Linked DNA regions of Homo sapiens: region 2 is linked to region 1. Evidence: fine-mapped expression QTL. Tissue or cell type: fibroblasts. Region 1 holds a variant in brackets; the other region holds the start of a gene. All regions are shown on one strand. Distances are between the middles of the regions.

Region 1 (5,148 bases):
AGGCTGAGGCAGGAGAATCGCTTGAACCTGGGAGGTGGAGGTTGCATTGAGCTGAGATTGTGTCTCTGCATTCCAGCCCAGGCGACAGAGCCAGACCCTGTCTTGAAAAAAAAAAAAAAAAAAGAAAAAGAAAAAAGAAAGGAAAAAGAAGGAAACAGGAAATGAGGAATAGTTCCATTAGGTCACACAGCAAGCCAGTGATGGAGTGGAGCTGGCAATTCTGATAGCATCTCTCTCCTTCTTTCTACCTGTTCTGCCACCTTTTGTTATCTTACATACTTGTCAAAATACAACCTGAGGAAAGCAAGAGTGCCAGGGCATGGTGAAGGCTAGGAATAGTCTGCTGCAAAGCAGGGAAGCCATTTTTCCCTCACTGGCTATGGGGAACCCTATGTTAACAGTGACTGAGCTTTTTCCTTAGTTGATCTTGTGCAGCATCTAACCTGGATGTGAGCAAACCAGTGTAAGAAATGAAACTGTAAAGGGAAAAAAGTGGATACGAAGGGAGGCAGGCATACTTAACATGAAGAAAACCTGGTCATTTGGCACTCTTTCAGTTAGGTTCTTTCACTTGGCTGGAGGTCTGGTGTGCCATAGCAGTTCTGCAAGCCTGCCAGAGAAATCTAACGATGAGAGTACAGTACCTTCATTGTCTAAACTTCCTCCCAACTAGTTAAGTGAAACTAGCTAAATGAGCAGCGCTGGCTTATTCCTTCGGAGTCATATTTTTTAACATGTGAAATATAATTATTGTAAGAGTCCACTCTCTTAAGTTTCAGGATTTGTTGGAAGACTGGGAATAGAGGGTGGCCATTGCCAGACCTGTAACTTGTAGAGCTGTGAGCCCAGCCATCTCCTGGGGCACTTTCCCAGGCTCTCTCAGAATTTCTGGGAGAAGGAACTGCCAGCTTCACCCCTGCAGTGCCCCCATGTCTGCTGGGCCCTTGCAACTTGAGAACTGGAGTTGGGCACTAGAGACAGGGCTTCCAGGATGTGGGTCTTCCTCTGGCTTGGCCATCCCAGGTCAGTCAGCTCTGGCAATGGAGGGCTCCAGCTGATCTTTTGGCTGTGGAAGGATGACTGGGTAGGGTACCACAAGGCTGTCCCTAAGTTATTAGGTTGAACCATAGGAAATTGTCAATATTTGACCATTCTGTTCTTCGAAATAGTGATTTCATATGGTTCAGCTTAAATTTCTAATATGGGGAAAGAAAGGAAAGAAATGGAAGCCCAAATAATCTATTGCCTGCACTAGGAAGCAGAATATATTTTCCAGAACATTAGTCTCTGTAGGGAAAAGAGAGATCAGACTGTTACTGTGTCTATGTAGAAAGGAAGACATGAGAAATTCCATTTTGATCTGTTCTAAGAAAATTGCTTTGCCTTGAGATGCTGTTAATCTGTAACTTTAGCCCCAACCCTGTGCTTACAGAAACATGTGCTGTATGGAATCAAGGTTTAAGGGATCTAGGACTGTGCAGGACGTGCCTCATTAACAGTATGTTTACAGGCAGTATGCTTGGTAAAAGTCATCGCCATTCTCCATTCTCAATTAACCAGGGGCAAAATGCACTGTGGAAAGCCGCAGGGACCTCTGCCCAAGAAAGCCTGGGTATTGTCCAAGGTTTCCCCCCACTGAGACAGCCTGAGATATGGCCTCCCGGGAAGGGAAAGACCTGACCATCCCCCAGCCCGACACCCGCAAAGGGTCTGTGCTGAGGGGGATTAGTAAAAGAGGAAGGCCTCTTGTGGTTGAGATGAGGAAGGCCTCTGTCTCCTGCATGCCCCTGGGAACAGCATGTCTTGGTGTAAAACCCGATCCTATGTTCGTTCCATTCTGAGATAGGAGAAAACCACCCTGTGGCTGGAGCCAAGATACGCTGGCGGCAATGCTGCTGTTACTCTTTGCTACACTGAGATGTTTGGGTGGAGAGAAGCATAAATCTGGCCTAC[G/C]TACACATCTGGGCATAGTACCTTCCCTTGAACTTATTTGTAACACAGATTCCTTTGCTCACAGATTTTCCTGCTGACCTTCTCCCCACTATCACCCTGTTCTCCTGCTGCATTCCCCTTGCCGAGATAGTGAAAACAGTAATCAATAAATACTGAGAGAGCTGAGACTGGGGCCGGTGCGGGTCCTCTGTATGCTGAGCACCGGTCCCCTGGGCCCAGGGTTCTTTCTTTATACTTTGTCTCTGTGCCTTATTTCTTTTCTCAGTCTCTCATCCCACCTGATGAGAAACACCCACAGGTGTGGAGGGGCTGGCCCCCTTCAACTCTCCGTTCATTTTTTAGTTTTGTTGAGGCTCTTTTACAGGTTGAATTGTGTCCTCCCAAAAAAGGTATGTTGTGGTCCTAATCTCCAATACCTCATAAGGTCACTTTATTTGGAAATACATTTTTTACAGAGGTAATCAAGTTAAAATGAGGTCATTCAGGTGGGTCCATTATGACTGGTTTCCTTATAAAAAGAGGAGACTTGGACACAGAGATAGATCTGCACAGAGGGAAGACACTGTGGAGACACACAGAGGGAATGCCATGTGAAGATGGAGGACTGGAATGATGCATCTAGAAGCCAAGGAACACCTGAGGCTCCCAGAAGCCAGGAGGGAGGCGTGGACAGCTCCTTCCCTAGCACTTTCAGGAGAATGGCCTTGGTCAACACCTTGATTTTGAACTTCTGGCCTCCAGAACTGAGAGACAATGAGTTTTTGTTGGTTTAAACAATCCAGTTTGTACTACTTTGCTACAGCAGCCCTAGGAAATGAACACAGGCTCCTTCCAGTGATGAAAACCTATGCTGTTGGTAAGAAACAACAGTACAGCCTGGGTTAAAAATGGCACAGTGGTTTAATCTCTAGAATCTCAGACAACAGATTTGAGGTATTCATTCCTATAGGATCTGGCTGTGCTTCCTACACTGACCAAAAAAGATTCATGTGTTCAGATACAACAAAGCTAGCTTTCTAACTTACTAACTTACAATGTATATGCATATGCACATGCCTGTGTGTTTCCCACCATGTATTTATTCTTCATGCTTGGTTTTCTAGCATTTTCAAGTTTGCAGTAAAAGGTTCAATACACATTTATTTCTCTAGTCTGCAGTGGAGCAGGTAACATATCCTAAGGAGACAAGAGTTTTTTTTTTTTGTTTGTTTGTTTGTTTGAGATGGGTTCTTGTTCTGTTGCCCAGGTTGGAGTGATGTGGCATGATCTTGGCTCACTGCAACCTCTTCCTCCTGGGTTCAAGCAATTCTCCTGCCTCAGCCTCCTGAGTAGCTGGGACTACAGGCGTACGCCACCATGCCTGGATAATTTTTTGTATTTTAGTAGAGACGGAGTTTCATCGTGTTGCCCAGACTGATCTTGAACTCCTGAGCTCAGGCAATCCGCCTGCCTCGGCCTCCTAAAGTGCTGGGATTATAGGTGTGAGCCACAGCGCCTGGCCCGAGAGTTGTCGATATGCTCGCAGGAAGTATTTCTGTGTTAAAAAGTTGAGAAGATGGAAACTGAATCCTCTTTGTATTCAGAAGGCTGTTTCGGAAGGTCACTGTTGGCAGGCTTCTCCCTACAGGGATTCAGCAGTGAGGGAGCAGAGTATTTGGGGGACAACTGCTTCTTCTGGAGGGGCGAGAATGAGATGGAGTTCACCAGCAGCTCTTTATGTCAGACTTTTAGCAGGATTCAGCTTTATAAATAAGCCTAAACAAACAAAATAACAGCAGATGATTATATGTCAACTGACTTCAATTTGATGGACTACTCTAAATAGAAAGACATATACAAAAGAAGGATTTGATTCACATTTGTAGCTTCAGTCTATCTGTCCACTCTCATTTTTCAGCCAAATTAAGAATCAGCTTTTGACTATCACAATACTGTATTACTTCTCCCTGGGTAACCAGGTCCTCACCACTTGGCCATTTCATGGTTCCTCACTACTTCCATTAGAAATGAAAAGAACTAAAATTACAAGTGAGCCATCTGGCACCTTTATGATATTGAAAGGTTTAGTGAGACAGGAAGTACAAACCACAGCCTGGAATGGAGTTCTTAAATTGACTGTGGATTTAAGTTATTATCTTCCACCTGCTCCTTAAATCCATCATTCCTGCAAATGCTTCATACTTAAGAGGAAAAATAAATTTCTTAAACAAGATACAAAAAAATTAGCCATAAAGGGAAAAATGTAATAAATGCAACTAAATTGACATTAAAAATTTCTGTTCATAAAGAAGATACCTTAAAGCAAATAAAAGACAACTTACACACTGTAAGGAGGTATGTGCAACTTATATATCCAACAAAAAATTGTTCTAATAGAAAATATATAAAGAACATCTATAAATCAGTAAGAAAATGAGAACAAATGGAAAAAAAGCTGAACAAACAAAAATTTCACAGAATGGGAAAAAATATGGTCAATAAACATATGAAGAGACACTCAACCACACAGGTAATCAGAGAAATGCAAATCAAGATCACACCGAGAAGTCATTTTATAGTCATTTGACTGGCAAAAATCATGAAGTCTGACTTCACTAATTGCTAGAGAAGATGGGAATCTAAAGAATCTCATATATTGCTGGTGGGAGTTTAATTTGGTACAGGCTTAGAAAACAATTTTGCATTCCTCTGTAAAGCTGAATACTCACAATACTCTACCACCCAGAAATTCTGTTCCTAAGTATATGCCAAGCTCTTGCCCATGCACACCACCAGGAGACATGAACAAGAATGTTTATAGCAGCCCCATTTGTAATAGTCAGAGGCCTGTCACTGGAAGAGAGACATTCATTGTGGGACAGTCACATATGGAGTATTACACAGTGGTACAAACAAGTGAACACAGCCAACAACATGGATGAACCTCAGTACTCCAGGGAAGTAACAGGTCATGTGTGTGACTTTCCTGAGACAGTCTACACACACATAAATATAGACATATTTTTCTTATTTATGGTATCACAATATTTCACCATTTTTTAATGGCACACACATACAATATAGTTCATAGGTGAGCTGTAGTTCTTTAACCAGTCTCCTATTGATGGATAGCTATGTTTGCTACGTTTTGCCATTTTTCTTGCTATTGCAAATAATGTTGCATGAGTGACACAATCACTGGAACCCGATAGCAAT
Region 2 (5,148 bases), 36 kb after region 1:
CTTGGCTCTACCAATCAGCAGGATGTGGGTGGGGCCAGATAAGAGAATAAAAGCAGGCTGCCCAAGCCAGCAGTGGCAACCCGCTCGGGTCCCCTTCCACACTGTGGAAGCTTTGTTCTTTCGCTCTTTGCAATAAATCTTGCTGCTGCTCACTCTTTGGGTCCACACTGCCTTTATGAGCTGTAACACTCACCGCGAAGGTCTGCAGCTTCACTCCTGAAGCCAACGAGACCACAAACCCACCGGGAGGAACGAACAACTCCAGACGTGCTGCCTTAAGAGCTATAACACTCACCACGAAGGTCCGCAATTTCACTCTTGAGCCAGCAAGACCATGAACCCACCAGAAGGAAGAAACTCTGAACACATCCGAACATCAGAAGGAACAAACGCCGGACATGCCGCCTTTAAGAACTATAACACTCACCACGAGGGTCCGTGGCTTCTTTCTTGAAGTCAGTGAGACCAAGAACCCATCAATTCCGACACAGTATGTAATCCTGAATTATGCACCTGTCACAATTTGATGAATTAATTGCCTTTGTGCTGCCTCTGTATCCTTGCTTTCACGCCACTATGCTTCACGCCACTGTAAGCTTGTTTCAAGCTAGCCCACCCCCTTTTAAAAGTGTGTATTAAAGTCAAGTGCTGTCTTTGTTCTGGGCCCAGCTTTTGGATGTTAGTCCGCTGGGTCTGAGTGCACTCAATAAAGTTCTCCTGTCTCACCCCATGGCCTCTCCAGTCCTCCTTCATTCCTGCAACAGAAGGATGAGTGAAATGGGGACTCAAAACCTCTCACTTTCATTTCTGAGCCTTTTGGTCTTATGGCATTCCTCTTCTTTTTGGGGGGACAGCAACGGCACCTATTTTTCTTTTTACGATACTGGAGGTGGTCCACACCCACCCCAATGGTCACCAGTGCACTCACAAGACAGTTGGGTGGGGTAGCTCCCTGGCCCCACTTCTTTACTGGCTGGGGTGCATGGTGGTGTCTGCAGCATGTGTGTGTGGTGTCCAGTAGCCACACAGGGCATAAATGAGCCACAGCCACTGCCCAGGCTCCAAGGCGCCGGCATGGCTGGCTGGCGTTCCCTACCAGGTGCCTGCAGTCTCCCCCTCCCCATTCCAGGGAGTCTAGCTCTGTCCCACAGCAATTAAGCTCCTCTCTCTGGTGGAGGAACCATTTGCATAGGAATAAGAGGTTCTTCCCCCAGGCATCCTTATCTCCTCTCCAACCCATCAGCAGTATACTTTTAAAGGAGGTTTTTCTTTTCCTTTTGGAAGACGTTTTGCTCTTTTGGGAATGATGAGGATTACCGTTTATATTTTCTGTAAAGTTTTGTGCGAAAGGATTTGTGAGGTAAGTCGTAAGCTGTAGCCAATCTGTGTGTTTTGCATGTCTTTCTGTATGCTCCACAGCAAACTTCGCTGCAGGCCTCCATCTTGTTTTACGTCCTTGGGGGCGTGGCCTGTAACCCCATTGCATAGCTTCGTTTAGCCCGGCATGGCCCAGATTCATCCTGGCTTAGGGAATGAGTCCTTTCTGGTTTGGTATCTGTATGCCCTTTCGCTATTTGTCGATTCCCCTGCCCTCCACCAACCACCTTGGATTTTCCTTTCTCTGAGCCTTTAAGTAAAGTTTGAAAGCCAGAAATATTGGCCGCTTGGTGGAGCTAAAGTTAGATAATAAGGGTGTTAAAAGAATTTTCTTAAGGAGTGCTCAGCTTAATTAAAAGTAGATATCTAAGTTGTAATTATATTTATAAGGCCTTTATGTTTTCCTTTTCTTGGACCTTATTTTGCTGGAAAAAGTGTTTCTTTGCGGTCGACTGAGTTATTTTTCTCCATTTTGCCTTGCCACTTTTAATGCCTGCATAAGAGGGGCGATCTCTGTTTTCCTCATGGAACCCCAGGAATTAAAAGCAGATAGATCCCTCTCCCTGTGATGAAAGATCTTATGGCAACTGGGTTTTCTTCTGCCTGTCTGTGTAGTTATATATGTGTTGTGTGTGATGTCTATAAAAAGATCTCTAATTAATTGACCTAAAGGAAGATAAGCGTTTGGATCAAATATTTTTTTAAAGGGAAGATAAAAGCTGTGGTATCTTTTAGTTCACGTCACTTTAATCTTTGAAAAATAAAAACAGCCTCAAATATTATTGGTAAAATACAGATGTTGTCAAAATATAAATAGACAGACTAAATTATGCAGTTCAGGTAGCGCCCTGCCGACCCTGTCTCTTAAAAAACAAAAAAACGGGGTCACCTTTCCATCCCTTTTCTAACGGTTTGAATCTCAGGACTGTATTCCTAGGCCCCTGTTGCTTATGCTGCCCTGTGGTGCCCAGGTGAGCTTTTATTCTGAGATTGGCTGGTTGGGGTATGGATAACAATCGAAGGCTCTGTTACCGCAGGCGTGTTTCTGAGTCCTGCTCCCGCCCCATGCCCGAGGGTGCCCAGACTCACCAGCTCGGGTCGCGGCTCGCTTCCCGGCAGGCGCCGGCCTACTGGCGGCAGGCACAGAGCCCCCAGCGTGCGGAGGCGCGCGGCGCAGCTCCTCAGCATGGCTCCGGGCCGCGGGGCCGCGCTTGCTCTAGCCCTGGACGGCGCACTCTACCTCCGCCACAAGAGCGCGCGTGCGAGTTAACCCCTGGGGTGGACGCAGGGCGGGGCTTGGGGAGGAGGCGGTGCGCACTACTGGCGGCTGGCTGGCCGGGGTGTGAGGCCGGCGGGGTCCGGGTAGGGCATCGCTGTTGAGTCTATCTTCTGGTTCCGGCCTTTTCTTTCCGAAGACCTCCCGCTGCGGCCAACAGCCGGGCCACTTCCGGGGCTTCTCAAAGGCAAGAGGAGCGCGGCCGGAGCGGATCCCGGTTATCGCCTTGGGCCCCTCAGCCCCTCAGCCCCGGAACCCGCGCGCCGACTGGAGGCTTTGCGGTCATCCTTCCCACATGACCCAGGGCGTACGCAGTGCTCCGTGTCCCCAAGTAGTTATCCCTCCCCCGGAAGACTGAAGTCCCTGGGGCGGGTAGGAGCGCACGCTAGGAGTAGTATGAATAAAGTGTTTTCTTGGAGGTCATGGGCAAGTCTCTGGACAGGGTTGATAGTGCTGATTTATAGAGGGCAGTCTGGGCACAAAGAGCATTTATACGATCGAAAAGCTGCTTTCCCTGCCAACAGCCCCATACCCTCCCCAGGAGCGCGCTTACGCCTTAAAAGACTCTTTTGTTATGTAAACTGACAGTTAAATTAAACGAAGGTAATGGATACTAAAGGCGTAACAGGTATTGTAACTATTTTACTGTTATCGATGCTTTTGAGGTTACTTACCTCGCTTGTATTCGTATGGTGGGAATACTAGGCGCATACCTTCTGAGCTTCGAATTCAGTAACCTCACTGGGACCTTGAAATCGGACTGGGTTGGAGTATTCCCATTACTCAGATAATGCAAATCCGGGCCATCATACCCCTTTATTTTTAAATGCTTACCAGTATGCCATAGCCCTAGTCCATCCTAAGGTGAAGACTCTAATGGGTTTTTTTTGAGACAGAGTCTCGCAGAGATACTGCTATTGCACTTCAGCCTGGGCAACATACTGATGCCCCATCTCAAAAAAGCAATAAATTAAAAAGAAAACTCGAATGACCTGAATGCATTAGATATTTTGCCTTGATTCCTTTCCCATGAACAACTCCAGCAGTTTGTCAGTAGGTAAGAACACCTAGATACATTTTAAGCCTACACTATTAACTGGGGGAAGGTGTAACATTCTGAGAGAAAGGGAATTGGGGAGAGAAGGCAATGCAGTTAGGAGGGGCCCCTTGGAATCCTAGAGCTACTGAACCGAAGATCAGGCATAAAGGATGGTTGTTGAGATTCTGTAATTCTAAGAGGTTGTATTCTGATATCTCCTAAGCACCCCCCCCAACCTCCCACATTCCCTTTATCTCAGTTGTCTTCCTTTTTAATATATTAATAGTATTGCAGTTTCCTGGTGGCAGGGATGGGGTCAGATTGCCTTATTAATTGTAACAACGTGCACGTAGTGCTTGAATACTTACTTAGCAGCAAGAATCCAAAGTATCTTTGGTGTCTGTTGTCTTCCCATGTTGTGCGTGCAGATGGAGGCACGAGCATAACGTAAATCTCTAAAATTGAGATGACTACTGTTAATGAATAGAAAAGTTTATTCAGGTAACTTAAAATTGCATCTATTTACAATTTACAGTGTAGTCAAATCAATCAATACCTATAGACTTCAACCCTGCTAAGATTGTCTATATGATTAATGTACCAATAGCTCACCTAACAGCTTCCTTTTGTTTTTTTGAGATGGAGTCTCACTCTGTTGCCCAGGCTGGAAGTGCAGTGGCATGATCTTGGCTCACTGCAACCTCTGCCTCCAGGGTTCAAGCGATTCTCCCTGCCTCAACCTCCCGAGTAGGTGGGATTACAGGCGCGTGCCACCACATCTGGCTAATTTTTATATTTTTGGTAGAGACGGGGTTTCACCCTGTTGGCCAGGCTGGTCTTGAACTCCTGACCTCAAGTGATCTGCCTGCCTCCCAAAGTGCTGGGATTACCAGCATGAGCCACTGCACTCGGCACCTATCAGCTTCTTAAAAGACCTTAGACTTAGGGCAATTAGAGGTCAGTTACACTGAGTTTAAACTTCATTAAATTTTAACTCTAAATTTTTCAAGTAGCGGCAGTGCATTTAGTTAAGTCATCCACACTCTTGCATGGCTTACTCTGGGATATTCGTGTTGACAGCACATATAAAATGTCTGGTCAGATTTGGAAGAGGAAGGGCAGGTTACAGTCTAGAAATAGGATTGATAGGCTATGGAAGTGAAGGAGTTTGAAGCTTGTATGGTTTAGGCAAGGAACAAATGTTCAATCTTGATAGAACTAGGCTTCGAATAAGCCAATGGTATGAAACTTAATAGTCTTCTCACCATTCTTTAATTTTGTAGACAGCTTTATTGAGGTGTAGTTGCCATAGGATGGGCACCGTGGCTCATACCTGTAATTCCAGCACTTTGGGAGGCTGAGGTGGGTGGATCACCTGAGGTCAGGAGTTTGAGACCAGCCAGGCCAACATGGTGAAACCCCGTCTCTGCTAAAAATACAAAAATTAAGGCCGGGC

Evidence for each region. PIP is the estimated chance that this variant, and not a neighbour inherited with it, causes the effect.
Region 2: it holds the start of THEM4, and the variant in region 1 is fine-mapped to the expression of THEM4 in fibroblasts (GTEx, PIP above 0.99). The same link has a PIP of 0.9 or more in esophagus muscle and tibial artery.

Annotation. Positions count from the first base shown.
Region 1 is chr1:151,871,221-151,876,368 of GRCh38, forward strand. It overlaps THEM4 (thioesterase superfamily member 4), which reads right to left. Exons shown (of 6, transcript NM_053055.5): 6 at 1-3,708. The coding sequence ends at 3,668. Among named protein-coding and RNA genes, the nearest start is that of THEM5, 20 kb to the left of the region's middle. The variant G/C (reference allele first, on the strand shown) is at 1,954.
Region 2 is chr1:151,906,894-151,912,041 of GRCh38, forward strand. It overlaps THEM4 (thioesterase superfamily member 4), which reads right to left and starts at 2,618. Exons shown (of 6, transcript NM_053055.5): 1 at 2,467-2,618. The coding sequence starts at 2,565. RefSeq lists a silencer at 2,345-2,654 and enhancers at 2,895-3,014, 3,003-3,590.